Linked DNA regions of Homo sapiens. The protein of the gene in region 3 purifies or fractionates together with the protein of the main gene of each other region. This does not show direct contact. Each region holds a gene or a part of one and is shown on either strand. Other genes may lie near its edges.

Region 1 (7,024 bases), on a different chromosome or scaffold from region 3:
ACCCTATTTTCTTTTCCCTGCCCGGTTTTGGTTTTTTGGGAAAAACAAATCCTGGCAGGGACTGTTTGGAGAGACCTGATGGGAGCAAGTTGGGCAGGCATGACCCCTGGTATTTTATCTTCCAGCTATTCCGCGAAGTAAGAATAATGAAGGTTTTGAATCATCCCAACATAGGTGAGCACAAGTTGTTATTTCTTTCTTCTTCCCCAACAGCAAGGCACTGCTTTCCAGCATGTCATCTTCTCCCCGAGGTGCACTGCCTTCTGGAGTCTGCAGTCTTCAAGGATACCCCTGGGGAAGCTCAGCTCAAAATCCATCTCCCCTTCTGGCACACTGGGCTGTCTTTAGCAGTTTGGCTGGCATGAGAGGAACTTGTTCTTGGGAGTGGGGGATCATGAAAGGAGGGGAGACTTTCGTTCCTAGGATGCTCCTGGACATGTTGGAGAGCAGTATGTGGCCCCTGTTGCTTCTTGACTTAAGGCTTGGCCTTTTCTCTTGTAGTTAAATTATTTGAAGTGATTGAGACTGAGAAAACGCTCTACCTTGTCATGGAGTACGCTAGTGGCGGTAGGTGTGGAACTGCCTCTTCCTGTTGTGCCCCCACTTCTTCCACCTCCAGCCAGCTCTGACTGAGATCCCTGCCTGGTCTCTTACAGGAGAGGTATTTGATTACCTAGTGGCTCATGGCAGGATGAAAGAAAAAGAGGCTCGAGCCAAATTCCGCCAGGTAGGTGTGACTCCCTCCATAGGAGCTAGGCCTGACCTCTGCTTTTGGGGTTTGACATGTAAGGATAAGCTGCCTGTCTGTAAGTGGCCCTTGGAGGGTACTTTGGGCTCTGCTTATCCGTGTGGCAGGTTAGCACTAAGTCACAGGGTCACTGCTCTGTCAGCCCCTGTGGCCCACCCTCAGGCACCCCTGGGTTAACCCTTCTTCCTTCCTTTCAGATAGTGTCTGCTGTGCAGTACTGTCACCAGAAGTTTATTGTCCATAGAGACTTAAAGGTAAGGCATGCACTTCTCCTTGTGCCTTTGAGTGGGAGCCAGGTTGTTGCCTCTTGGTTCTCCATGATAAAACCATCAATAACCATCAGGCCCTGAGTGTTCCAGGAAACTCCAGCCTTTCTTTTTTTCTTTCTTTCTTTCTTTTTTTTTTTTTGAGATGACCAGAAAGCCCCTAGGGCTGCCTCTGATAGAGGCCTTGTGGCTGGACCTCGGGTTCCATTCTAGCCCTTGAGCAGGGGCCCTCTGCCATTTCACCTCTTGGCACATCACCTTTTAGTGCTGCCAAGCAAGGCAGGCACACTCCAGGCTTTCTCAGTCTTTCAGGCAACCTGGTAGCTGACCCAGGGAAGAGTGCTGAAAGTTCCACAGCTGTATCCCAGCTGCTTTGCAGGCAGGCACACACATACCATCTCCATCACCAAGATACTCAAGTTTGAGGACACCTGTGGGTCTCTTGGCTGCTGAGTCCTCACAGACATGATTTGATTAACCTGGGCCTGATGCTGAAGCTTTGCACAGCTCACAGGGTCTCTGGGCCTTCAGATCCCATCTCTCCCATGGCTGCCCACGTGAGGAGTGGCCTGCATTGCCTTCCTCCTGCCCAGCCTATTCACGCTGATTGAAGCCCTGCCCTGAAATTGGTGGAGAAAGTTCTGAGACTGAAGATGACTTTCCGTTTGTTCTCCCATTCCCCTCAGCTCCTTCCTGCCCAGGGCCTTAGTCTGGTCCACTTGGTTCCCTGATGTTTTCCATCTTACCTCCCAGGCAGAAAACCTGCTCTTGGATGCTGATATGAACATCAAGATTGCAGACTTTGGCTTCAGCAATGAATTCACCTTTGGGAACAAGCTGGACACCTTCTGTGGCAGTCCCCCTTATGCTGCCCCAGAACTCTTCCAGGGCAAAAAATATGATGGACCCGAGGTGGATGTGTGGAGCCTAGGAGTTATCCTCTATACACTGGTCAGCGGATCCCTGCCTTTTGATGGACAGAACCTCAAGGTGGAGTGAAGTGCAAGCTTTTTATTGCTTCTCATTTCCTCTCGGCCTCTGGTCTTAGCCCTGACCTCCTGCCTTTGCCACCTGTCTACATTTGTCCCAAGCCAAAGCTTCAGAGAAGGGCTTGCTGAGGTAGCAGCAGTCAAAGGCCTTCTGCACCTGGGAATGAATAACCTCAGTTCCTTTCTCGAAAGATGGGATAAACTGTGTGTGTGTTCATCCCCCAAGGCACTCCGGATTGCAGGCCTCGGACTGGTCAAGTTAGAGGGTACGAGGGTATTTGACTTCACTTGCCTCTCTGGTGAGGTGTCTTGTCCCCAGGCTGTCTGCCTTCTTCCATATTTCATTTATGTCTGCTTTGCCAGGCTTAAGCTCTCAGGATCTTGGATATTAGGTTTCTTCCTTTGGCCTTGGGGTGATTTCAATTTTCTAACCCTGGATCCTCCTGCAGGAGCTGCGGGAACGGGTACTGAGGGGAAAATACCGTATTCCATTCTACATGTCCACGGACTGTGAAAACCTGCTTAAGAAATTTCTCATTCTTAATCCCAGCAAGAGAGGCACTTTAGAGGTGAGCAGTGGAGCCCAACTGGCGGAAGGGCCTGGGGTCCCCACAGAAACTTTCCAGCTGAGTTTCTTCCCCCTGCCCTTTTCCTTCTCTGTGCTCCCCAGCAAATCATGAAAGATCGATGGATGAATGTGGGTCACGAAGATGATGAACTAAAGCCTTACGTGGAGCCACTCCCTGACTACAAGGACCCCCGGCGGACAGGTGAGGCTGTGCCGGGCTGTGAGGTTAAGCTTGCCTAGGAGTTGAGGCCAGTCTTAACTGTATGTCCCCCTGTGCAGAGCTGATGGTGTCCATGGGTTATACACGGGAAGAGATCCAGGACTCGCTGGTGGGCCAGAGATACAACGAGGTGATGGCCACCTATCTGCTCCTGGGCTACAAGAGCTCCGAGGTGTGTGCTCCCCGCCCCATTCTCTGACCTGGCCAGCCTCACTGTCTGTAGCACCTATGCTTCTAACACCTGTTGAGGGCAGAAGCTCATCTCTGAGTAGGTGTGCTCTCTGCTCACCAATTTTAAGCCTCAGCTTTGGTGTCTAAGGTCCTCTGGCCCATTCACTGATCTCCATGAGTGAATTAATAGAAAGCTGGTAGGGTCGGTGTGGGACTGGGTCAGAGTTTCAATACGGGTGAGTTGATCTAGGTTAGTCTGCATTGATTAGATGTGTCTAGGTCATCGGCTAGCACTACTACATTGATCTAGATATCTTTGTGTCTCTTTTTGTATCTGGAAGTGTACATTTCTGGGTGTGTGTGTGTGTCTCTGTGTGTGTCTGATCGGAAGTTTGAGTCTGTTGCTTTTTTTTTTTTTTTTTTTTTTGAGACGGAATTTCGCTCTTGTTGCCCAGGCTGGAGTGCAATGGCAGGATCTTGGCTCACTGCAACCTCCGCCTCCCGGGTTCAAGCGATTCTCCTGCCTCAGCCTCCCAAGTAGCTGGGATTACAGGCATGTGCCACCATACCCGGCTATTGAGTCTGTTGCTTCTGTCTAGTGCTTTATGTTTGGGTGTGTGTATCTGTGTGTGTGTGTGTGTGTGTGTGTGTGTGTATGTGTCCGTCTTCCCGTCTGTGGATCTGGAGACTTTGTGATTGTTCTTCTGCCCATTTGGGTTTTGTTCATCATCTGAGTATCCCCACATGAACTCCCAGCCTCCCTGCCCTGCTCTCCCTCTGGTGGTGGGATCCTTAAGAGGCACCTGGTGACACTTGGTATAGGCCCATATTGCTCTGTGTTGAGGGGAGTGGACTTGAGTCTGGACATGTGTTCTTGCGGATGTTTGTGTCTCTGGGTGTGTGGGCTTATGTATTCCTTTCTGAGACTGTGTTTGTCAGTGTCTGTGTCAGAGCATGTGTGTCTCCAGGGTCTCCTCCAGGGGGGATGTATTGGTCTTACAAGTGGATGTCCGGTATGATCCTGGGGTGTTTGAGTGTTGGGAGAGGGCGGTATGTGTAAATGTGTCCATCCATAGGGATCTCCACATGACTTCTGCCCTCCCTTGAAGCTGTTTTCTGTTTCTTTCAGCTGGAAGGCGACACCATCACCCTGAAACCCCGGCCTTCAGCTGATCTGACCAATAGCAGCGCCCCATCCCCATCCCACAAGGTACAGCGCAGCGTGTCGGCCAATCCCAAGCAGCGGCGCTTCAGCGACCAGGGTAAATGCTTTTGGGAGTTGTAGGTGGGGACTCACCCCTCTCCAGAGAGGTTACAGGTTCTGTGGGGACTTGGGTAACACAACTAAGTTTCAGTCCTGGTTCAGCCACTTATTAGTAGTGTGGCTATGGGCAAGCCACTTCCCTTCCCTCGCCTCTGTGGAATGGGGGCTTGCTGGGTTGTTGGCCAGCCCTGTAGGAAATGAGCATGCGTGGGGCTGGCACTCAGTGGACCCCTTGGCCTTACCCATTCCCATCCTCCCTCTGGCCCAGCAGCTGGTCCTGCCATTCCCACCTCTAATTCTTACTCTAAGAAGACTCAGAGTAACAACGCAGAAAATAAGCGGCCTGAGGAGGACCGGGAGTCAGGGCGGAAAGCCAGCAGCACAGCCAAGGTGCCTGCCAGCCCCCTGCCCGGTCTGGAGAGGAAGAAGACCACCCCAACCCCCTCCACGGTGAGCCGCACCCCCCGCTCTCTCCTTCCTTCCTGCGGTGGGGCCTGCCCTCTCCAGGCAGCTCTTCTCTTAATTCAGACTCTGTTCCCTTTGGCTACTACTTCTGCTTATAGCAGGAAGCCTCGCTCCCAGCAGTAAATGCAGAATCCTTTCCTTAACCTACCACTGTCTGCTTCAGGTGGAAGGGACAGGAAGCCTGTTCCATGAACCTGGGGGGAGAACCTGGCTGTAGACCACTTTGGCTTTCTGATAGAACGCTTGCCCTTTATTCCCCACAGAACAGCGTCCTCTCCACCAGCACAAATCGAAGCAGGAATTCCCCACTTTTGGAGCGGGCCAGCCTCGGCCAGGCCTCCATCCAGAATGGCAAAGACAGGTGAGAGACCCGGGCCCTGCCTGCCTCACTCCCTAGGAGCCATGTCTCACAGGGTGATGTCTGTCAGCAGCACCGTCTCCTGTCCCTGCCAGCGCATTGCTCCCTGCTCCCTGGAGTTCCATCCTGGCTGTGTCCAGTCCAGCTTTCCCCTCCCCTATTCCACGCCATTGCCTCCTCCCCATCTTCCTCTGACTGCTACTTGCAGTTTGCCAAGTGTGGGGCTGACCGTGGCCATCTCAGCTACATGCTCGCTTCTTGACCACGGCCAGGGCATGGCAGCTGCCCTCCTCTAGACATGAGCAGCTAAGGCCTTGTGTTGGGGGTCCCAGCTCAGGGCAGAACCAAGAGATGCCCACCTTGAGGGGTGTACACATAGAGGGCGACTCCAGCCATCCCCATGAGACCAGAGCTCCCCAGCCTTCACCGGCCGCATTTCTTGGTGTTGCATTCCTGGCTCTATCTCTTCTGAGTTTATGAAAGTTTCCCCTCAGCAACACCCCACTCTTTCTGTAGAAGAAACTCTCCTGTTCTTAAAATTCTTAGGAGGCCAGTGCAGCCTGGAGGCAGCGGCCCCTTGTCTGCTCTCCTTCATTTCTGATTCCTCTTCCCAGGCACTGACCCACCTCGCTGCTTCCCGACCTCACTCACCTCCACTTCTCAGCCCCGCATTCCTCAGTTCTGACTTGCATCCCGCTGCTGCCCAGGCCTGACTTCTACCCTGCCAGAGCTCCCCAGCTCTGGCCCTTCCCCTGCCCTTGCTTCCTAATCCAGGCCTCCCGCCCTCACTCACCCCTAACACGGGCCTCTCCGCTGCTTTTGTTTCCTAGCCTAACCATGCCAGGGTCCCGGGCCTCCACGGCTTCTGCTTCTGCCGCAGTCTCTGCGGCCCGGCCCCGCCAGCACCAGAAATCCATGTCGGCCTCCGTGCACCCCAACAAGGCCTCTGGGCTGCCCCCCACGGAGAGTAACTGTGAGGTGCCGCGGCCCAGGCAAGTGTGCTGGGGCAGCTGGTGCACCTGCTGCCCTCAGCCCACCCTACCCCCTTGCCCCAACAATTTCTTCTTCCCACTTGGGGGTCCTGCTGTGTTCTTGTCATCTTAGCCACAAGAAATGGGTCTGTCCCCTGCGGCCAGGAAGTGGAGGGAACAAAAAAGAGCATTAATGCCCCTCTTTTCCAGTTCTCCCTCTCAGAACAGGTATGCAGGAAGCTGTCCTAAGGCTCCAAAGGGAAACCTTTTTGTTCTGAACCTTCCAGGGTTTCCTTAGGGACCCCGGGGATAGTCGGCATCACAGGGACTCAATCCTCAAGGGTTGGTCCCCATTGCCGCCTTGAGGGTCCAGTCTGCCCGGCTCCCAGGGAGCCCGCTGTCTCCAGCCTAAACCACACTCCACACAGGGGTCCTTCCTTGCCTCCCTCCCTCCCTTCCCAAACCATCTCCTTCCACTTCCACGAGACTTCCTTCTCACCACTGTCCTCAGTAGTCACACCCTTCCTTCTGTGTCCTCGTGATGGCTGCCTCTGCCCTAGCATCCCCCTCCCTGTCCCCACCACAGGGTGTCCAGGTGCCCAGTGATGGCTGTCCTGTACCCTAATTCGTCCCCCTCAACCCCACTTCTCTTCCCACAGCACAGCCCCCCAGCGTGTCCCTGTTGCCTCCCCATCCGCCCACAACATCAGCAGCAGTGGTGGAGCCCCAGACCGAACTAACTTCCCCCGGGGTGTGTCCAGCCGAAGCACCTTCCATGCTGGGCAGCTCCGACAGGTGCGGGACCAGCAGAATTTGCCCTACGGTGTGACCCCAGCCTCTCCCTCTGGCCACAGCCAGGGCCGGCGGGGGGCCTCTGGGAGCATCTTCAGCAAGTTCACCTCCAAGTTTGTACGCAGGTAAGCAAGGAGCTTTGGGTGGCAGAGAGGCTCAGGCCAGGCCTTCCTGCTTTACTCGGGGTGGGTTGGGGGTTGGGGGTTGGGGTT
Region 2 (7,024 bases), on a different chromosome or scaffold from region 3:
AGGTAAGGGCAGACCAACCTGGAAGCAATCACAATTGATCAAGAGGTGAGTCTCTGGTATAGTTTTGAGAAAAGGACAAAATGAATTGGAAGTTAAAAGGGAACTTTTTTTGAAGAAGAATCATTTATCCAATTCACCATTCAACAAGCATTAATGAAACAACTTTTATTTGGTAGACACTGTATTAAGTGCTGTGGCTATAACAGTAACCAAGCCCCTGACTTAATGAAACTTGTGGTTTAGTGGAGAAGATGAACATTGAACAAATCATTCTAAATATGGTGGGTCTTATGGAGGAAAAGTACAATGTACGGTGGAATAGCATATTAGGAGGGTCTAATTTAAGTAGAGTGCTGAGAAATAATTAGATGTTAACTGGGACCTAACCTGATTAGTTTTCAGAAATTTGACTATGATGCGTCTTGGTGTGGATTTCTTTGGGTTTGTCCTGTTTGGAGTTTATTCAGCTTCTTGAATCTTTGGGCTTATTCCTTTTGCCAAATTTGGAAAGGTTTTAGTTTTTATTTTTTTGAATACTTTTTCAGCCCTGTCCGGTTTCCTCTTCTTCTGGAACTTTGATGATGTGAATGTCAGATCTTTTGTTATTAGTCCCCCAGGTCTTTGAGACTCTGTTTTCAATTTATTTTCTCTCAATGGTCAGTGGAGGCCTGGTAGGGAACCTCGAGTTCTACCTCCACTTGGCGGTAACAAGGTAGAGACTTCCCACTAACGCTCTTTCCCTGCTGGGTTAGTGGGAAGTAGTATCAAAAGAAGCCAGCTAAAACAGAAAGCTTAAATAAGATCGTAGGAGCACAACAGTGCAAAGAAAGCATGCTGAGCCCATGAATAATCCAGAATCTCATAATGCAATACCTAAAATGTCCAGCTTTCAACTGAAAATGACCTGTCATACCGAGAATCAGGAAGATCTCAAACTGAATGAACTGTTGTTCACATTGAGTAATTTCTTTTCTTCTGTCTTCCACTTCACTGATTCTTTCCTATGTCCCCTCTTCCAATGCTGACCCCGTCCATTGCATTTTTAGTTTGTTCTATGTACTTTTTCAGTTTTAAAATTTCCATTCAGTTTTTCTTTATATCTTCTAATTTTTTTTACTGAGACCTTCTCCTTTTTCATTTGCTTCAAGCATATTCTTAGTTATTCACTGAAATATTTTTACAAAGCCCGCTTTAAATTTTGTTAGATAATTCTGACACCTCTGTCATCTTGGTGTTGGAATCTATCGATGGACTGTTTTCATTCAGTTTGAGATTTCTACAAGACCTGGTAGGATCTATTAAGGTATTAGACTGTTGTTCTTTTCCCCCCAAGTCTGTTATGTAAAGCCACTGCAAGGTTTTCAGACAAAAGAGAGGTATGATTGCATTTACATTTTAGAATGATCAGAAAGGTGGCACCTGCAGAAAGTGACAAAATACTGTCCCTCCCTTCCCTATCCGGTATCTCATTTCCATTTTTTTGTTTGTTTGTTTGTTTGGTTTGTTTTTGAGACGAAGTCTCACTCTGTCGCCCAGGCTGGAGTGCAGTGATGTGATCTCGGCTCACAGCAACCTCCGTTTCCCGGATTCAAGTGATTCTCCTGCCTCAGCCTCCTGAGTGGCTGGGATTACAAGCTTGAGCCCCCACGTGTGGCTAATTTTTTTGTATTTTTAGTAGAGACAGGGTTTCACCATGTTGGCCAGTCTGGTCTCAAACTCCTGACCTCAAGTGATCCACCTGCCTTGGCCTCCAAAGTGCTGGGATTACGGGCGTGAGCCACTGCACCTGGCCTCATTTCTGGTTTTTTTTTTTGAACTTGTCAAAGGAAAGATAATAAAGGGTGAAGGGCTCAGCAGAAAACTAACAATGTGCTATGCAGAGGGTTTTTATTTCCATTTGGCTATCTAGTATCACTTCAAATTTTACATGTTCAACACAGAATTCTTCCTCTTCTCTAATCCTGTTACATCACTGATGTGCACAGCAAGTGAAATGGAAAGCAAGATTTCTCTTCTTCTCTTGTTCTTACTTCTGATCTCCTTTTTCCTAGCCATTCAGCAAAGGGGAATTGTAGCTTAGAGAGTCTTAGCCCCAGCATCATAACGTTGAGTAGAGAAGGATGGTTGTTTCTGAGAGACAGGGTGGTAACAATTGGCACATCTAGTGATAGCTACCTTCTCAATCTCTTGCTACCCCAAATGAAAGCACCTTTGTATTATCTCTTCATGGACCTGTTCGTGAATTTCTCTGAAGTGTACACTCAGGAGTGAGATCCCACAAGTAGGCCCATTTTTTTTGTTTGTTTTTGAGATGGAGTCTCACTCTGTCGCCAGGCTGGAGTGCAGTGGCACGATCTCGGCTCACTGCAACCTCCGACTCCCAGGTTCAAGTAATTCCCTTGCCTCAGCCTCCCGAGTAGCTGGGGTTACAGTTGCCCGCCACCATGCCTGGCTAATTTTTTTGTATTTTTAGTAGAGATGGGGTTTCACCATGTTGGCCAGGCTGGTCTCGAACTCCTGACCTCAAGTGATCCGCCTGCCTCGGCCTCCCAAAGTGTTGGAATTACAAGTGTGAGCCACCATGCCCGGCCAGTTATACTATATATTAAGTAGTGTTTAAGTTCTGAGAAATTCAGTGCTCTTAACCATATGGTATTCTGTAGTATAAAGCTACTTAATATAACCCCTATTTTATTATTTTTATTTTTTAAATTGATGTCAATTATAAAATTAATAAAGCCACATAACAGAACTTTGGAAGATAGGAGGAAAAATACTCATCTAAATCTACCAGGTTGCTATAGCTACTTTTACCATTTTATTACATTTCTTTCCAGTCTTTCCACATGCATATAGTGTCCATAGCTGTAACTGATGTATAAATAATATTGTACATTTTCTCTTAATATTTTGTCATAATCACTACCTGATATATTATGGTTGTTGAAGAATTGCTTGTTGAATGAGCATTATATTGCAAGAATGTTTTCACTATCTTTGTAAACATAAATTTTAATAGCTGTATAATTGTCCATGAGCTAGATGTAGCCTAGTTTATTTAATCATTTCCCTATAATTGGATATTTTGTAGTTTTTGAAACAGTTTTTACTAAAACTGCAATTAACATTTTCATGAATGGAGCTCTACCTCCCAACCCCCACCAGCTGGAGTGATAGAAGTAGGTATACTGATATTGAGTCAAGGGATATGAAAATTCTTGATCCATGTTGCTTTTCAAAAGAATTATACCAATTTACAGTGTTATTGACAATAAATGAGAGTGGTTCATGTTTATGAGTTTTTCTAGCTCATATCTGTGACTTCTGTTTTCTTTTTCTGGGTTTCTTTTAGATTCTTGTGTTTTACTTTTTGCGATGTCTTCTGGCTTTTGTGAGCTGTATTTGTGAACTTTACTTTTACAAGTGAGTATAAAAACTTTGCTTCTAAAAGTGCTGTGAGGAAACCCATTATTGCATAGATTATCTGTTGTGATAGTCTAGGCAGTGATTAGAAATAGAAAACTCTTGACCGGGTGCGGTGGCTCACACCTGTAATCCCAGCACTTTGGGAGGCCAAGGCGGGCAGATCACCTGAGGTAGAGAGTTTGAGACCAGCCTGACCAACATGGAGAAACCCCATCTCTACTAAAAATACAAAATTAGCCGGTTGTGGTGGTGCATGCCTGTAATCCCAGCTACTCGGGAGGCTGAGGCAGGAGAGTCACTTGAACTTGGGAGGTGGAGGTTGTGGTGAGCTGAGATTGTGCCATTGCACTCCAGCCTGGGCGATAAGAGCAAAACTCCATCTCAAAAAAAAAAGAGAAAGAAGTAGAAAACACTTTCCTCCTAGCTCCTGATATATATATCATATACATATTTTTTTTTCTGGGAAAGAAAACTTTTTTTTTCATACTGAGTTTTATTGTATGCTGCTGCCAGTGTGGATAAAACAGTTACCCTTGTGAAATAGAAATTCATGAAATTCAGAGAGGTAGATGTTAAAGACTGATGAAACTAGAAGTTCGTATATTACAGCACATGTGCTACAGGGATAAGCTTTTGTACAGGCTTCAAATTTAGCTCTCTTTTGAATATCCACTGGATCATAAGAAGTGGTTTGGGAAACTTTTGAAATTCATTTTACTACAAAAAAGAACAGATTTTCTGGGGTCTGAAGGGATTTGTACTTGAAGATACTCTAGTCAGCAGAGGGTCATGTTGAACATTCTGCAGACAGAATTGTTTGAAGTCTGCAGCTGCCTGGGAAACTTTTATGCAGTTGAGCCTGGCCTCCAGCCGGGGCTGTTGAACCACTTTCTTCATAGCGGCAACGCTGGAGGAGCCAGACATGGTGCACGTGAGGGCCGGGCCAGTTCGTGGGTTGGTGGGTCGTGGGTCAGCGGGGCCTGACTGAAAACTTCTTGCTTTTATTTATTGTTCTCTTCTTTTTCTTTTTTTAATTTTTATTTTTCAATAGTTTTTGGGGTACAGGTGGGTTTTGGTTACATGGATAAGTTCTTTAGTGGTGATTTCTGAGATTTTGATGCACCCATCACCTGTAGCTCCTGATATTAAATCTGAAGTGTGACTTCTCGTTTGAAACCAACAGTTGAAGGGAACACTGTACTTCTAATTATCGTTTTCTTTCCTGAGGTCATAAATACCATATCCTTATATCATTCATTTTAATTCTGTTAAAAACTATCTAACTGGTCTTTACTTGATAGGATTTAGTAGAACCCTATTTTCGGTCCTAAGATACAGGATCATGATTTGCCTCTGCCCTACAGCTTAGTTGATAATAAACTACTCCCGGTGTGGGATATCACTGCTCTTGTTTGCACCCAATATATTGTCTTTCACAAAGTACCTATTAGTTGATTGAATATTAGTTGGGACTATTAAGCATTTAAGTGTCCCGGTAATAAATATAGCCACCTTTTTTACATGATAACTAACAAACGTCTTGTTTTAATAATGCTTTAGTAATATATTTAAAGGTATTTGGACTTAGTGATCATTATTTAAAATCTTCCCACAGCTAAAAATGTCAGATTTTAAAAAATGTTTGGCCTTGACTGTGAGTGGAGTGGAGGGAAAAAAAGTAAAGCTAGTGCTGCCTTTGAGGATTGTAACCGTAAATTCCGTAAATTGGTCTTTATATGGGTTTGGGCCTGAATTCAGATCACCTATGTGGTCCTTCAAGCCCTAAGCTGAGAATTTACTTTAATATATTTTATTTATTTTATTTTATTTTTGAGACTGTCACCCAGGCTGGAGTGCAGTGGCATGATTTCGGCTCACTGCAACCTCAGCCTCCCGGGTTCAAGCAATTCTGCCATCTCAGTCTCCTGAGTAGCTGGGATTACAGGTGCAAACCACCACGCCTGGCTAATTTTTTGTACCTTTAGTAGAGATGGGGTTTCACCGTGTCTTGGTCTCCTGACTTCGTGATCTGCCCGCCTCGGCCTCCCAAAGTGCTGGGATTACAGGTGTGAGCCACCAGGCCCAGCCGAGAATTTATTTTAAATTGTTCTGGGTTGGTAGTGCCCGTGGCATCTGGCAAAAAATTTCTCTAGAGAAATGGACCCTTAACCCAAGTGTCTGAAAATTACCAGAGATAAAGTTCTAGTGAACAAGAAATTATAATAAAAATAAATCAGAGCACAGAGGGAGCAAAACATTATGGGTGAGAATCAGCAGAAATAACAGTCAACAGAACGTTCACCTGAAAAACTTCATTTATTGGGAAATAGGAATATAATGTAAGTATATTTAACATTTTCAAACAAGTAAAAGAACCAAAAACATGAACAAGAAACAAGAGATGACCAAATAAATTTAAAAAATTCAGAACTTATAAGAATCATATAATATGTAATATTATATAATATGAATAATATGTATATAATATTTATATTTAAGACTCAGTAGATAAACAGCAGATTAGACATTCTGATGAGTAAACTAGTAAATTGGAAGATTGATTTAAATAAATTACTCAAAATGCAGTACAGACAGACCAAAAAAAAAAGGTAATATAGAAAAGGTTAAGAAATGTGTAAGCCACGGCTGGGCACGGTGTTTTATGCCTGTAATCCCAGCACTTAGGGAGGCCGAGGCAGGTGGATCACTTGAGGTCAGGAGTTCGAAACCAGCCTGGCCAACATGGCGAAACCTCATCTCTACTAAAAATACAAAAATTAGCCAGGTGTGGTGGCACATGCCTATAGCCCCAGCTACTTGGGTGGTAGAGGCACGAGAATCACTTGAACTCAAGAGACGGAAATTGCAGTGAGCCAAGATCACCCCATTGCACTCCAGCCTGGGCAAGTGAGACTCTCTCTAAAAAAAAAAAAAAAAAGAAAAAAAAGAAACATGTAAGCCAGAGTTGAAAGAACTGACATACATCTAATCAGATTGTAGAAGGAGATGATAGAATGCGGAGAGGCAATATTCGGGGTATTAATAGCTGAGAATTTTCTAGAAATGATGGGAAAAAAAGATGCTAATCCATGGATTTAGTAAACCTAACATATCCCAAGCTAGATACATAAAAAATTAGTGTAGTGAAACTGTGTAAGACAATAGAGACAAAGAGAAAGATTTTAAAAATTGTCAGAGAACTAATAGAATACCTGCAAAGGAGTGTTAGGCAATTACACTGACAGAAGACTTTTTAACAGCCAGAAGACCAAAAAAGAATATCTTCAAAGTCCTGAGAGAAAATAACTTTCATCCTAAAATTGTATATTAGGTTAAGCCATCTTTTAAGACCAAGAGCTAAATACAGACTTTTCAGTTTAAAAAAAAAAGAGAAAGGGAAAAAAAAAGGAAGAAGCCTGTAATCCCAGTGCTTTGGGAGACTTAGGCAGGAGGATCATTGAGGATTGCTTGAGCTCAGGAATTTGAGATCAGCCTGGGCAACATAGCAAGACCTCATCTCTACAAAAAATTAGCTGGATGTGATGGCACATGCCTGTAGTCACAGTTACTCCTAGCCATTCAGGAGGCTGAGGCAGGA
Region 3 (7,024 bases):
GACTTTTGAAGAAAGGAAGGGGGTTGGTTGCACAGCCGCGTAAGGGTACTTAACACTACTGAATTGTACACCTAAAAATGGTTAAGATGGTCACTTTCGGCCGGGCGCGGTGGCTCATCCCTGTAATCCCAGCACTTTGGGAGGCCGAGGCGGGTGGATCAGGAGGTCAGGAGTTTGAGACCAGCCTGGCCAAAATGGTGAAACCCCGTCACTACTAAAAATACAAAAATTAGCTGGGTGTGGTGGTGAGTCCCTGTAATCCCAGCTACTCAGGAGGCTGAGGCAGGAGAGTCGCTTGAACCTTGGAGGCGGAGGTTGCAGTGAGCCGAGATGATTGTGCCATTGCACTCCAGCCTGAGCCACAAGAGCAAAATTCTGTCTCAAAAAAAAAAAAAAAAAGATAATCGCTTTCATGTTTTGTGTATTTTACTACAATTAAACATTTTCTAAAGAAAAAAAGGAAAGAAAGGGGGTGATTTTCTCAAAGGGGAATTGAGGGGTTGTTACCAGAAGGAGAAACGAATGTGAGTGAGTAGGCGAAACCAACCAATTTCCAGAGCGAACGGAGTCAGGTGCTGACCCCAAGCCAATGTGTCTTTTCTCACTTTAATGCCTGAGGGATTTCAGAGTGAACAGAGTGAAGAAAGGAGGAAGTGGAACCTCGTCATGGTCCTCACCCACGAGGTGGGCGCGAGGAGCAGGCTGGTACTGGATAGGCTCAATGTGGCCACAAAGCCTGGTGAGGTCACAGGGACTCCCCTCCTCCAGCCCCAACCCAAAAGGTTGCCTAAGGCAGGTGCTGCGCCATGTGCACCAAGCAACTTTCTGCTGCCACCTCCAAGAAAGAGAAGGACCGGGAGGGGATTTCTCCCAGGAGAGAGAGCACATAACGCTCCGTCTTTTCACCTGTCTGTTCTCAAGCAGGACCTAAGTGTCTAAGGCAACCCCACACCCACAGTGCCTGGCAGGGGCCCACCCATGGGTACACATCGTGTTCTCCTAAGCTCATGTCACTCCATTTCAGATGTCAACTGGACATGGACTCCTGCTGATCCTCCCTACTGTCATTCACTCCTCTCCTGCTCCAGCCCTGATCCCTGAGGTCTCTTCTACCCTTGCAGTGTCTCCCCTCTGTGGTCCTCAGGCACCAAGGCTGAGCCCTTTCCCTCGGCCCTGCAGTGTCTCCCCTCTGTGGTCGTCAGACACCAAGGCTGAGCCTTTTCCCTTGGCCCTGCAGGCTCAGTGGGGAGCAGGGCTTTCCCTGCCTGGCCCTGGACCACCTCCTTCAACTTCAGCAAGTTAGCGGTCTCCCTGTCACCAGCCAGCCTGACACCCTGAGACCTCCTCATGGGCCTCGGCCGTTCTCTTGTTCTAGGTTATTGGGCCCTTCCTCAGGTCCTTAAACTGATGCTTCCATTCAGCTTCTCATCTCCTTCCAAATCCCCAGTTTTCTTCTAGGCTCTCTGGCTAGAGAAGGTTAGAGCCATTTTGAAGGCCTCTGACAGCCCCCGTCTTGCTTTGTCTCCACAGAAGGCCATGGTCCCATGATACACTCAGGGGTGCTGTTCAGAATATCAGGCACCGCATGGCACAGCTACTTGGGAGGCTGAGGCAGGAGAATTGCTTGTACCCTGGAGGCGGAGGTTGCAGTGAGCCAAGGTCACGCCGCTGCACTCTAGCCTGGGTAACAGAGTGAGACCCCGTCTCAAAAAAAAAAAAAAAAGTTAAATCACTTGATATGCATTCTGAAATATTTAAAGGAAAGTATATCAATGACTGCAATGTACTTTGAAATGCACGATCAGGCTGGGTGCAGTGGCTCACACCTGTAATCCCAGCACTTTGGGAGGCCAGGGCGGGAGTTTGAGACCAGTCTGGCCAACATGGTGAAACCCCATCTCTATTAAAAATACAAAAATTACCCGGGTGTGATGGTGATCTGTAGTGATCTGGTGCCTGTGATCCCAGCTACTTGGGAGGCTGAGGCAGGAGAATCTCTTGAACCCCGGAGGCAGAGATCTCAGCGAGCAGAGATCGCACCATTGCACTCCAGTCTGGCGACAGAGTGAGACTCTGTCAAAAAAAAAAAAAAAAAAAAAAGAAAGAAAGAAAGGTGGCATGGGTGGTGCTGTGTGCCTGTAGCCCCAGCTACTCGGTAGCCCTAGGTGGGAGGACTACTTGAGGCTGGGAGCTTGAGGCTGTAGTGTGCTACAATCCCATCTGTGAATAACTACTGCACTCCAGCCTGGGCAACATAGCAAGACCTCTAAAAAAAAAGGAGAAAGAAAGATGGACAGAAGGATAGATAGATGGATAGATGTATGTTGTTGGGGAAAAGTTAAATGACTAACAGTACCTAGTAACTGTTCACATTCCTTGTCATGATCATAAAAATCAAATAATAAGAAATTAGAAAACTTCCATAGGAAATGTAGCTACCTATAATACACTGCCATATGAATTACTGGGTTATTGCTCCACTCAACTTTTAGCTTGTGATGAGGAGGTGATACCAGCACTGAGCCTGCAGGATGAGTAAGAGCTTTGCAGGTGAACAAGACCAGCAAAAGAGCCTTTCCCACAGAGGACAGAGCGTGTGGGCATGCGTGATTTAGTCAAGGGTCGCAGGCATCCCAGGGTGGCTGGGGCTTGTGGTATTGAGGTTGAGCTGATGCAGAAGTCACAGACCTGGGTTTGAATTGTGGCTCTAACATTCTCTAGCTGTACAGCCTAAACCTATGTGAGCCGCCATTGACCAAGTGTGAAATGGAGATGACAACATTTACCTGCTAGGATTTTTGTGGGAATTATATGTAAAGTACCCGGTATAGCCCGTGTTCCAAGGTGAGCACTCAGTAAGCATGAGCTGTCACAGTGAAGAGCCCGGACAGAATCTGGGAGTGATTATGCAGACCTCGAACACCACTGAATTGACCTTTGAATCGGCCTCTTGTCAGGAATCCATATGCTTTCGTTCTTCAATCGTACACTTTCTCAAGGAAACCAAGTAGTCGGGGTGGGGGGATATATTTTCATTGTTTTCCCACTGGGGCCACTAAGCCGCTGTCATCACCCATAAAAAACCCCTGCCCACAGTCTACCGTGGACCCTGGGTGCTCGCTTCTCCCCTGGACATCCCAGGGTCCACACGCTGCAGCTCCCAGGGGTGGGAGAAGGGACGAAAGCTCCTTCTCCTTCACTGTATTTCCCTCAACACCAGCTTGCTGTTTGCACAGAGGAACTCTGCTTTCCCTTTGATTAATACACCTCTTTGTCTCACTATGGAAAGCGTCTGTCCCCCTCCAGTGGGGGCGTGTCCTCCTGCAGGCCTTGGAAGGCTTGGTGGGGTCCCCCGCCCACTAAACGTGAAGTCCGAACATTCCCTTACATCGACAAAGCCTTTTCACACACACTGTCCCATTCAGTCTCGACACAACCCTGTGAGGCCATCAAGGCAAGTGCTGTCCTCCGTGGTCACCACCAGAGTGAAGGAGCCAGGCTTGGGCCCAGGCCTCCTTCCCCAGCCCAGGGTCCCTTCCTCTACACAGGTCCCACCTGCTCCTTCTTATCGAGAAGGGCGGTGGCAGGTAGCCACTCCCTCAGAAGTGACCAGAGGGAACAAACTTGTGATACTGAAGGGAAATCAGATGCTAATGCGTTATGCGGTTGAGCGCCTATCAGCAGAGATTATGTGGGTCTCTCCTATAGAAAGGTGACACCGAGGACCTACCACCAGCCACCACCAGCATGCAAGGGCGAGGTGTCACCTCCCAGTGGGAGCAGGTTTGCATTTATTAAGACCTGTGGCCAGATGGCAGCCTGTGGGCATGGAACAGGACGAGGTGGGCTGACCTCTGATGGCTCTACCAGGCCGACGCTGACCACGTAGGGAAGCCAGTTGGCTTATTCGTGGCCCTAAGGAAGTGAGGGCTGAGCAGGGAGGTGCTCAAAGCGGGCTCCTCACACTGGCTGTCTGGAGTCGCTGTGGGAAGGGCCCAGGGGAAGAAGGGTTGCTGGGGCCTCTGAATCCCCCCCCGATGGAGGCAGAGCCTCATCCATTCCCAGAGAGTCTCTCGCCACGAGCCCCGGTACAGCGCAGGCTGACCAGAGAACCGGAGAACCGGGTGGGAACCGGAGATCTGAGTTGAACCAGTGCTGGGAACCATGGCACTGCCTTCGCCGAGCCGCCGCGTGCCTCTCTTTTCACCTCTCTGGCCTGCATATTCTTTTAGCAAACTTGGGGATTATACTACACATTCTGCTTTACACTTTCCTTTCCTTGATATTATTTTATTATGAACGTCTTTCTGCGTCAATCAATATATTGCTACCAAAGCATTTTTTTATCATACCACGTCATTCCTATCATGTAGTTTTACCATAACTTATTTAGCCAGTGCTTCCATTATTGGACTTTTGATGGTTTCCACTTTTTTATTATTCTTACTAATGTTACAATGAATATTTCTTTTAAAATATTTTTATGTACATTGTATTTCCTTAGGATAAATTCCTAGAACTTGAGTCATTGAATCAAAAAGAATCCAGACTTTCAAGGTCTTTGATAAATTGGCTAAATTGTTCTTCAGAAAAAGTGTGCCAATTTTCTGTTCTACCTGCAGGGTGTGAGACAGTTCTTAGGGGGGGAGAAGTCAAAACAATTGTATTGTCTATATTTTGACAAATTCATTATTAAGAGAAAGCTAGAGAAGCAAATCACAAGCTCTGAATTCACACATCACAATTCTAAATGTTTGTTGTTCTAATCCTCAATTTCAAGTTCTTGTTAATGCATCCACCATTTGAATATTTACTTTTTCAAAATATAGGAATGTGTTAATTTACCAAAGATCACAATCGGTTCTTTGCTTTTTGCTTATTTTTTGAGACAGAGTCCCACTTCGTTGTCCAGGCTGGAGTGCAATGGCATGATCTCGGCTCACTGCAACCTCTGCCTCCCAGGTTCAAATGACACTCTTGGCTCAGCCTCCCGAGTAGCTGGAATTACAGGTGCCTGCCACTATGCTCGGCTAATTTTTGTATTTTTAGTAGAGACGGGGTTTCACCATGTTGGTCAGGCTGGTCTCAAATTCCTGACCTCAGGTGATCTGCTGGCCTTGGCCTCCCAAAGTGCTGGGATTACAAGCGTGAGCCACTGCGCCCAGCCACCTGGCTAATTTTTGTATTTTTAGTAGAGACGGGGTTTCTCTATGTTGGCCAGGCTGGTCTCGAACCCCTGATCTCAGGTGATCCACCCACCTCGGACTCCCAAAGTGCTGGGATTGCAGGTGTGAGCCACTGTGCCCAGCCTGTATTTCCATTTTTAACATAACAAATGTTTCCTGAGCACCTTTCTGAGAAGAGTGTTTGAAAAAGGTATGTTAATGATTCCTGGAAATATGGGGACAGAGATTACCATAATTTAACATCTCTTTTCAGGAACACTTATTTCATTTTCCTCATTTTTAAATGTGAGTACTTTAAAACTTACAGAAAAGTTTACAAGAAAGTACAATACTAAATTTACCGAGTAGTAATATTTTGCTTTACTGTCTCTATTGAGCCATTTGAAGGTAGTTTACATAAATTACGGACATCATGAAAGTTCCCTGTAAGTGCTTCAGCATGCATTTCCTAACAATAGAGGCGATGTCTTACATAACCACAGGCTTGTTATCCGACCTGCAGACCTCATATCATCTGTGCATCTGAAAACTCATCACTTAGTGCCTATTTAAATTTCCCCAATTGTCTCATACTTTTCTGTTAGAGATTCTTTAAAATCCAACATCCGGCCAAGCTCAGTGGCTCACGACTGTAATCCCAGCATTTTGGGAGGCTGAGTTGGGTGGATCACCTGAGGTCGGGAGTTCAAGACCAGCCTGACCAAAATGGAAAAACCCCATCTCTACTAAAAATACAAAATTAGCCAGGCATGCTGGTGCATGCCTGTAATCCCAGCTACTCAGGAGGCTGAGGCAGGAGAATCACTTGAACCCGGGAGGCGGAGGTTGCAATGAGCCGAGATTATGCCATTGCACTCCAGCCTGGGCAACAAGAGTGAAACTCCATCTCAAAAAAAAAAAAAAAAAAAAAAAATTCCAACATCCACTCAAGGTTCATTCACTGCACTTGGTTAAATGCTTCTTAGTCACTTGTAATCTAGAACAGACACCCCCAGCCCCACTCCAGCCTTTCTTTGATTTTCAAGACTGACTCTTGAGAAGTCCAGGCCAGTTACCTTGCAGGACGTCTTACAGCCCAGATCTGTCAGAGGCTTTCCTCATGACTGGATTCAGGGCAAGTGTTTCTGGCAGGCGTTCCACCAGGACAGTACCCTGTTTCCTAAGTCATCACACTCAGAGGCTCAGAATGGCAGGAGCTCTCACCACGGGGGTGTTGAGTTTGGACATTTGGTGAAAGTTGAGGTCATCCTAATGTTTTGCTAAGAATCAGAGGGACCAGAGCTGCTTGCTTGAGACTTCCCAGTGCTTCCTGGAGAAGGGACTGTTGGAAATGGTCACAGACTGGGGGTTGGTTTTGTTCTGTATCATCTGTTCTCAGTGGTCTGTGACCAGCTGCCCTTCCCATTCTCCCAGATCCCAGGTGCAATTGCTCTTTTTCTTGCAGTCAAAGGCAGACTCCCTTTCTTGTGGAGGCCTCCATCCGGCACCGTGTGCCCTTGTGTGTCCATGAGTGTCACTGTCACACATTTACCACTGCACCTGTGCGCACTCTGCCTCTGGAGAGCCCTCCCCCAGACCCAGGGAGAAATATTTGTTTCTCTCTTTTTTTTTTGAGACGGAGTCTCGCTCTGTCGCCCAGGCTGGAGTGCAGTGGCGTGATCTCGGCTCACTGCAAGCTCCACCTCCCGGGTTCACGCCATTCTCCTGCCTCAGCCTCCCGAGTAGCTGGGACTACAGGCGCCCGCCACCGCGCCCGGCTAATTTTTTGTATTTTTAGTAGAGACGGGGTTTCACTGTGTTAGCCAGGATGGTCTCGATCTCCTGACCTCGTGATCACC
Region 4 (7,024 bases), on a different chromosome or scaffold from region 3:
CAGGTGTCCAGGACACGAGGGAGCAGCGTAAGGTCAGTGCACTGCCCTGGGCCTCATCCTATGCCCATGCCTCCCCTCACCCCAAGACAACCCTGGGCCTTCCCAGCACTTGCTGCTCCCGAGAGTGGGTGGGTTTTAGCCTTCCCCTCCTCAGCCCCACGGGCTGGAAGGCGAGGGGCAGGAAAGAACAAGAGGCTCCAGGGCACCTCTGAGGGCTGCAGAGGACTCAGAAATCAGAACCAGAACATTTTTACTCTTTGGGCTCTGGGAAGGGCCAGGCAGAGTGCAAGGTGTCCACAGGAGGGGTAAGCAGAGAGGAGCTACAGGGGGCTGCAGTCCTAGTACCCTGTTGGGGAGGACTGAGGGATGGTGAGTTTGGTCTCCGGAGGGGGCTCCAGTCCTGGTGCCCAGTTCTGACACCTGCCCCTCCTGAGTTCACACTGGAGTCCTTGCAGTCCTGAAACCACAAGGCCTGCCTGAACCCTGGGTCAGGAGAGAAACACTTGGGGAGGGGAAAGGACGGCGTGGGCTACCCATGACGGCTCTGAGTTCTTCCTGGGGCTTGTGTCTTTCCTTGGCAGAAGAGGGCACAGCCAAGGCAAGGAGGGGCTGAAGGCTGCGGGGCCATCCCGGCCTGCCAGAGCCATGCCCCTGACTCCTCAGCTTCAAAATCAGGGGTCTCAGGACAGAGGATGCTGGGTGGGCTCAGAGCTCATCAGGGGGGCTGTGTGTGAGAGGGGATGCCTTCTGGATGCCCTCATCCTCCTCGGGGCTGGGGTCTCCCTCAAGGCCACCCAGCTCCTTCCTTTGTTTGCTGCTGCTACTCCTGCCGCCTGCTGCCTTGGCCCTGCTGCTCTTCTTCTTGGACTTCTTCCCTCCCAGGGCAGCTGTGTCTCCCTTCTTGCCGGACCACTGCTCTGCCAGGCAACCTAGGGTGTGGAGGAGAGAGACCCTCAACAGAAGTGCCTCAGGGCTGGGGTGCTGGGCAAGGAGCACTGAGCAGGGAGCCGTGGGAGTAGCAACTGGGACTGTGCTTGACATCAGCCTCCCTGCCTCCTGCCTCTCGCTGTGGCCACCAGGCCCCTCTGGGGGCATCTGACTTGTCTGCCCATCATTCTGCACCTGGTTTCAGTGACTCTTACTTCACCATGTCTTGCCAATCAAGCCTTTCAAGGGCAGAGATCCTACAATGCCCTCTGGTGCCCTCTGTTTCTCCTCCTACCCACCTCCCCCAAGGGAGAGCAAACAAATCATCCAGAGCCAGCCTGCCCTTGCTTCCCCAAACTCACTGGTGTCTTTTCCCTTCAGCACGTGGTTGGCGCAGAGGAATTCAGTCAGGTCTTCCTCCTGGTGGTTCCTGTACCAGTCCTCGATCACCTCCTCAAACTCTTCCACCAGCACATCACACTGTTAATCATAATACCTCATATTGGCAAAGCCCCAGCACCTGACTCGCTCCTAGAGGAGCTCAGCTAAGCCTCGCAACCCACTGCAAGGTAGGCAGTGGCAGCGGTTCACCTAAGGAAACTGAGGCCAGAGAGGTGAAATGACCTGACCAAAGCCACCCCGGCCTGGGTGGACTTCCTCAGAGCAGACCCAATCCCCACCAGCCCCTCACTGGGCACAGCAACCCTTCCAAGGGCTGAAGGGCCTGTACCTGCTTCTTGAGGTCAGCCACCTCTGCAGAAGTCTCGTTCCACAGCTCATAGGGGATGTCCATCACCACCTTGACCCCTTTGTGTACCAGGTTGTGTAATGTCTCAAAGGTCTCTGACATGCCCTGGAAGAAGCGACCAGATATGGCAGGCGGAGCTCCCTTCTCTCCCTCCCACCCTCGTCTCCCAGTGGTGGCTAAGAACCCAGCTATAAGACCAATGCTCAACGCCCTCTAAGGATCCTCATCCTTTTTTTTTTGAGAAGGAGTCTCACTCTGTCGCCCAGGTTGGAGCGTCTCAGCTCACTGCAACCTCTGCCTCCCAGGTTCAAGCGATTTTCCTGCTTCAGCCTCCCAAGCAGCTGGGACTACAAAGGCGTGCCACCATACCCGGCTAATTTTTGTAGAGTTGGGGTTTTGTCATGTTGGTCAGGCTGGTCTCGAACTCCTAGCATCAAGTTTTCCACTCACCTCAGCCTCCCAAAGTGCTGAGATTACAGGCGTGAGCCACCGCACCTGGCCTCATCCTTGACCTGACCTTCCTCTTCCCTCTTTTAGGCCTGCTTCCCACAACCCCTGCACATATACCCCCTGATCTGCCTCTGCACACCTCATCGCTTCAAAAAGACCTGCGGCTGCCCTCAGGCCCTTTGGCTTTATGCTTCTTTTCCAGGAAATAGGTTTGTCTTAGCTCTTTCCCCTCACTATGGCTGGAAACACTCCCATATCATCCAGACCTGCTGTTCCGTTCTTCCTGGGTTGTGTCTTTCCTCAGTGGGAAAAAGGCATAGCTGAGGCAGGTAGACCCTTTATTCTGTAAAAACTATCTCTGCTAGCTGCCTAGGTCTTATCCCCAGAGAAAACATACTATCCATTTCCTCTATTTTCCCAGAGATAACTCATACAAATACCAATATCTAAATATATCCTCCCCCCGCCTTTTTACACAAGCAGTGGTATAGCATACACACTATTTTGCACTTGCCCTTTTTACTTATACCTTGAAGGGCTGGGTGCAGTGGCTCATGCCTGTAATCCCAGCACTTTGAGAGGCCAAGGTGGGCTGATCACCTGAGGTCAGGAGTTCGAGACCCCCTGGCCAGCATGGTGAAACCCCGTTTCTACTAAAAAACACAAAAATTAGTCGGGCGTGGTGGTCGGTGCCTGTAATCCCAGCTACTCAGGAGGCTGAGGTGGGAGAATAGCTTCAATCTGGAAGGTGGAGGTTGCAATGAACTGAGATCGCACCACTGCGCTCCAGCTTGGGCAACAGAGTGTGAGACTCTGTCTCCAAAACAAACAAACACACAAAAACCTTGAAAATCAATTGAATTCAGTTCCTAAAGAGCCTCCCCATGCTTCGTTTCCAGCCGCATACTAGTCCACCAAACGGCTGGATCAACGTATTTAATCCCCTATTGGTAGAGTTAGATTGTTTCTCATTTTTTTCCTGCTATGAAAAATAATTCTTAAACACTTTTTATTAAAGCAAACACAGATTTATTACTGAGTGCAAAATTCATACAAATTTCTGCTGCTTGAGACTATTCCCTTAGGTATCCCAGGAGTTTATGAATGGTATCCTTTGCTAGAAGGAAACTTAGGTAGAAAAATGTGGGTGGCAACTATCTTACCCTGTGCCAGGCACTGAAGATGTAGAGAGTAAGAACTATGGGCCTTGTTGTAAGCAGCTCATTCTCCAGAGAGAAAAGCACTCGTACACATACTGAGTACATGGGCCATCACAAGGGCATCCCAGCGGGGTTGTGGGAGGTGCTGTGTGGACCCAGAGATGGGACTGGGCAGTCACTCCCACCGAGGTGTCCTCTGACACCTCGCCTAAACCCCCACCTTTCTGCACATCGTGGATCTTGCTGAGTTCTCCCCGTTCTAGTGTCTTTAGGTTCCCACGGGGGCAGCAACTGTGGAGCATTTCTGCCTGTGTCTGAGATTGAAGCAGGACCCTCATGAACAGGCCCAGACCCTCATGCATGTGCCTGAAAAATGAGGCCACTCAAGAGGGGAGGAGCACAAACGGCAATCAAAGAATGGGAAGAGGCAATGAAGGAAGATCCCAGGTGGTCATCTTCAAATCACACTCACACCAGCAGACACACTAAGATACATGCAGGCCTGACCCCAGAGCGGATGAAGGACAATCCCGAATCCAACCTTGGCAAATCGATTGCTGCCGGTCCTCTCCTTGTGCAGGCTATAATCCAGGAGCCTCTTGCAAATGGTCTCAGTGACTTCGATTAACCGCAAGTCCCTGCCAAGACAGGAGGATGAGGAACTGAGTTCCCCTCCTAGCCGCAGTGGGTTAGTGGTCTGTCCCTCCAGCCCTGTGCCCCAACACCTGCACATCTCACCAATGGGAAGTGACTCAGAGCTGGAAGGAAGATAGGTCATCTGGTCTGGGGGATCTGAAATGCTGGAACACAGACCAGAGAGACAAAATTTTAACAGCTCTAAGGGAAGGAATTTTTTATAAAGCTAAATGATTCAGTATTTAGATTTTTTGATAAAGCAAAATTATTAAATTTTGATAGTAAAATATCATTCTCTTTGAAAGGATGATCACAGCTGACAGAATTGGGTTTTTAAAAACTATATTTGTACCTAGCAAAATAAAAAGCTGGTAATCCTGTTACTAATGTTTTAAAAAATTGCACTGTGGCCGGGTGTGGTGGCTCACACCTGTAATCCCAGCACTTTGGGAGGCCGAGGCAGGCGGATCATCTCAGGTCAGGAGTTCGAGACCAGCCTAACCAACATGGTGAAACTCCATCTCTACTAAAAAAATACAGAAAATTAGCTGGGCGTGATGGCACATGCCTGTAATCCCAGCTACTTGGGAGGCTGAGGCAGGAAAATCTCTTGAACCCGGGAGGCAGAGGTTGCAGTGAGCAAAGATCATGCCATTGCACTCCAGCCTGGGCAACAAGAGTGAAACTCCGTCGCAAAAAAAAACTTGCATTGCTCTGTGAAATCCAAGCGTCTGAGAATCAATGATATAGTCCAACAGTCTTGCTTTTAGAGATGAGAAATCTGCTGAAGCATAAAGAAGTTAAGAGATTTATGCACGTCACCCAATTAGCTGGGGACAGAATCAGTGGGCAAACTCAGGTCTTGGTTACAAATGATGCCCTTGTAGGGGGTTTGCCTAGCTAGGAGAAGGGAACTCCAAACCCCTGAAGCCTCCAGCAGCAACGCAGGCCAGGCCAGTGAGTCCCCATTCACTTACGACTTGGTGTATTTGACTCCAGAGGCCTTCTGGTCCAGGATGCCATAGCCCGTGCCAATCACCTCCTTGGTCTTGCCGGTTTCCTCAAAGGCTGACTTCAGCTCCACAGCAACATATTTACACACTGGGGGAGGGAGGTAGCACAGCCCACTGAGTGCACATGAGTCTAATGGGAGGCCAGCTCCCAGCAAAACAGATCCAGGTGGGCATCCTTTCCTAGACTGGAGGACCAAAATCAGCACTCAAGGCAGGGAAGGAGTTAGAACCTGTGGAGGCTAAAGCAACTCCATCTTGGATGCTAATGTGCCATGTTGACTTCTGATTAACCCCAGTTTCAGGAATGCCTCTAGGATTTCTATTTTATCTACTGTTTCTTGTGTAAGAGCATGTACTTACTGTAAATCCTGCCCTTAAGCAATTGTTCTTCGTATTCCTTTTTTTTTTTTGAGATGGAGTTTCGCTCTTGTTGCCCAGGCTAGAGTACAATGATGAGATCTCAGCTCCTGGGTTCAAGCGATTCTCCTGCCTCAGCCTCCCAAGTAGCTGGGATTACAGGCATGCACCACCATGCACGGCTAATTCTGTATTTTTAGTAGAGACAGGTTTCATCTTGTTGGGTAGGCTGGTCTTGAACTCCTGACCTCAAGCGATCCGCCCACCTCGGCCTCACAAAGTGCTGGGATTACAGGCGTGAGCCACCACGCCAGGGTCTATCATTTTACTTTCTAAAATTGCATACATACAGAAAAGCTGAAAGAACACAATGAATACCTTCCACTTGTATTCAACAGTTGTTAATAGTTTGCCACATTCTCTCTTCAATATATAATTATAATATCTCAACAATATATACATTTCTTTTGCTACACCATCTTGAAAGTAAGTGGCAAACATGACCTTTTGAGATAAATATATCATCATGTATCTCCTGAGAAAAAAGACCTCCTCCTACATAACCATAGAACAATTATGATACTTGGAAAATTAACAATTCCAACATCACCCAGTAGTCCATATTCAAATTTCCTTAATTGTCCCCAAAACATCTTTTATGGTTGTTAGATTACTTGATTTCATATGTGTTCCAACATCAGCTCTATTTCTACCAAGTTAATTTGCTCCATGCCCTCCAGAGAGCTCTTGTTCCTACTGTCTCCGCACATTTATTTCCTCATTTCCTCTTACCCTTCCTCAAATAGGTATTAGGCAACTCCTACGTGTCAGCCTGGGGATACAGAGATGAAAACAAGGTCCCCTCCCTTCCAGATACTCAGTCTAATGCAGCAGATAAAGGTGTAGACAAATAACTACCACTGTATAGAGTGCTACAGTGCTACCACCGAGGGTGTGAAGTGCCTGAGGCCCTAGGAAAATACTTAATGCCTTCTAAGGGCTTCTCTGCCCATCCTGCCCACCTCGCATTATAAGCCTCTCCCCCAGGAAGCCATTCTGCACTAATGCCAATTGCTCTAGATTTCACTCTGGGCCTCTGCAGGATCCATGCTCTCCCTAAGGACCCTCAGTCATTTGATGTGTCTCTCCACATAGACCACAAGGGTCCCCAAAATGTGCATTATGTATTAGATTTTTTCGTATTTCCTTAGCCTGGGACTTGATATATGCTGGACGCTCGATAAATCTTGTTGATAGAGACCGTCTTCTGATGCCTCTGAATGGAATACCAGTCTGAAGGCTAAATGCCATCAGCAGTTTTAACACTGACAGCACAGTCTGCTAGAATACCAATTTACCACAAAAATAAATACATCCCCTGGAGGCCTGCTTGGTGAAATTAATCAATGGCTTGGAGAATTTGAAACACATACAAATTCCAAGTAATAAGCTGGTGATCTTCAAGTCTGCAATGAACTGGGGATGTCTCACCTCCCCAGCTCTCCATCCAGGACCATCTGGGCTCCCTCCCCTCTTCTGTCCTGTACTCTGTGCAGGCACATCATTTTTCTAGCACCACTTGCCCCTCCTCCCACGCCCTCCCCAGGAGTGGGGAAAGGGGAGGTTTGGAACATCCTTTCTCTCTCATACCCATCAACCACAGCCTTGCTTTCCAGCTCTTCCAAACATTACCTCTTCAAGACCTCCTCTGCGGATCCCACCCAGAACCAGAC

What was found.
Region 1: the proteins of NRROS (region 3) and MARK2 purify together in Homo sapiens (affinity purification with mass spectrometry; 2 studies listed by BioGRID and IntAct, with this or other methods). This does not show direct contact.
Region 2: the proteins of NRROS (region 3) and ALG9 purify together in Homo sapiens (affinity purification with mass spectrometry; 2 studies listed by BioGRID and IntAct, with this or other methods). This does not show direct contact.
Region 4: the proteins of NRROS (region 3) and CNPY3 purify together in Homo sapiens (affinity purification with mass spectrometry; 2 studies listed by BioGRID and IntAct, with this or other methods). This does not show direct contact.

What each region holds. Positions count from the first base shown.
Region 1 is NC_000011.10:63,898,107-63,905,130, forward strand, and holds part of MARK2 (serine/threonine-protein kinase MARK2), read left to right. Parts: intron 1-125; coding exon 126-174; intron 175-501; coding exon 502-567; intron 568-656; coding exon 657-727; intron 728-945; coding exon 946-1,002; intron 1,003-1,767; coding exon 1,768-2,004; intron 2,005-2,452; coding exon 2,453-2,572; intron 2,573-2,673; coding exon 2,674-2,773; intron 2,774-2,850; coding exon 2,851-2,963; intron 2,964-4,091; coding exon 4,092-4,224; intron 4,225-4,494; coding exon 4,495-4,676; intron 4,677-4,954; coding exon 4,955-5,052; intron 5,053-5,879; coding exon 5,880-6,041; intron 6,042-6,679; coding exon 6,680-6,937; intron 6,938-7,024. UniProt on the Homo sapiens protein: Serine/threonine-protein kinase. Involved in cell polarity and microtubule dynamics regulation. Phosphorylates CRTC2/TORC2, DCX, HDAC7, KIF13B, MAP2, MAP4 and RAB11FIP2. Phosphorylates the microtubule-associated protein MAPT/TAU.
Region 2 is NC_000011.10:111,861,580-111,868,603, reverse strand, and holds part of ALG9 (alpha-1,2-mannosyltransferase ALG9), read left to right. Parts: coding exon 1-2; intron 3-3,352; coding exon 3,353-3,423; intron 3,424-3,905; exon of another isoform or gene 3,906-4,411; intron 4,412-7,024. UniProt on the Homo sapiens protein: Mannosyltransferase that operates in the biosynthetic pathway of dolichol-linked oligosaccharides, the glycan precursors employed in protein asparagine (N)-glycosylation.
Region 3 is NC_000003.12:196,642,692-196,649,715, forward strand, and holds part of NRROS (transforming growth factor beta activator LRRC33 precursor), read left to right. Parts: intron 1-7,024. UniProt on the Homo sapiens protein: Key regulator of transforming growth factor beta-1 (TGFB1) specifically required for microglia function in the nervous system.
Region 4 is NC_000006.12:42,932,473-42,939,496, reverse strand, and holds the end of CNPY3 (protein canopy homolog 3 isoform 1 precursor), read right to left. Parts: intron 5,120-7,024; exon of another isoform or gene 5,023-5,119; coding exon 4,899-5,022; intron 4,086-4,898; coding exon of another isoform or gene 4,024-4,085; intron 3,961-4,023; coding exon of another isoform or gene 3,924-3,960; coding exon 3,827-3,923; coding exon of another isoform or gene 3,743-3,826; exon of another isoform or gene 3,132-3,742; intron 1,781-3,131; coding exon 1,658-1,780; intron 1,408-1,657; coding exon 1,290-1,407; intron 930-1,289; coding exon 706-929; 3' UTR 203-705; downstream 1-202. UniProt on the Homo sapiens protein: Toll-like receptor (TLR)-specific co-chaperone for HSP90B1. Required for proper TLR folding, except that of TLR3, and hence controls TLR exit from the endoplasmic reticulum. Consequently, required for both innate and adaptive immune responses.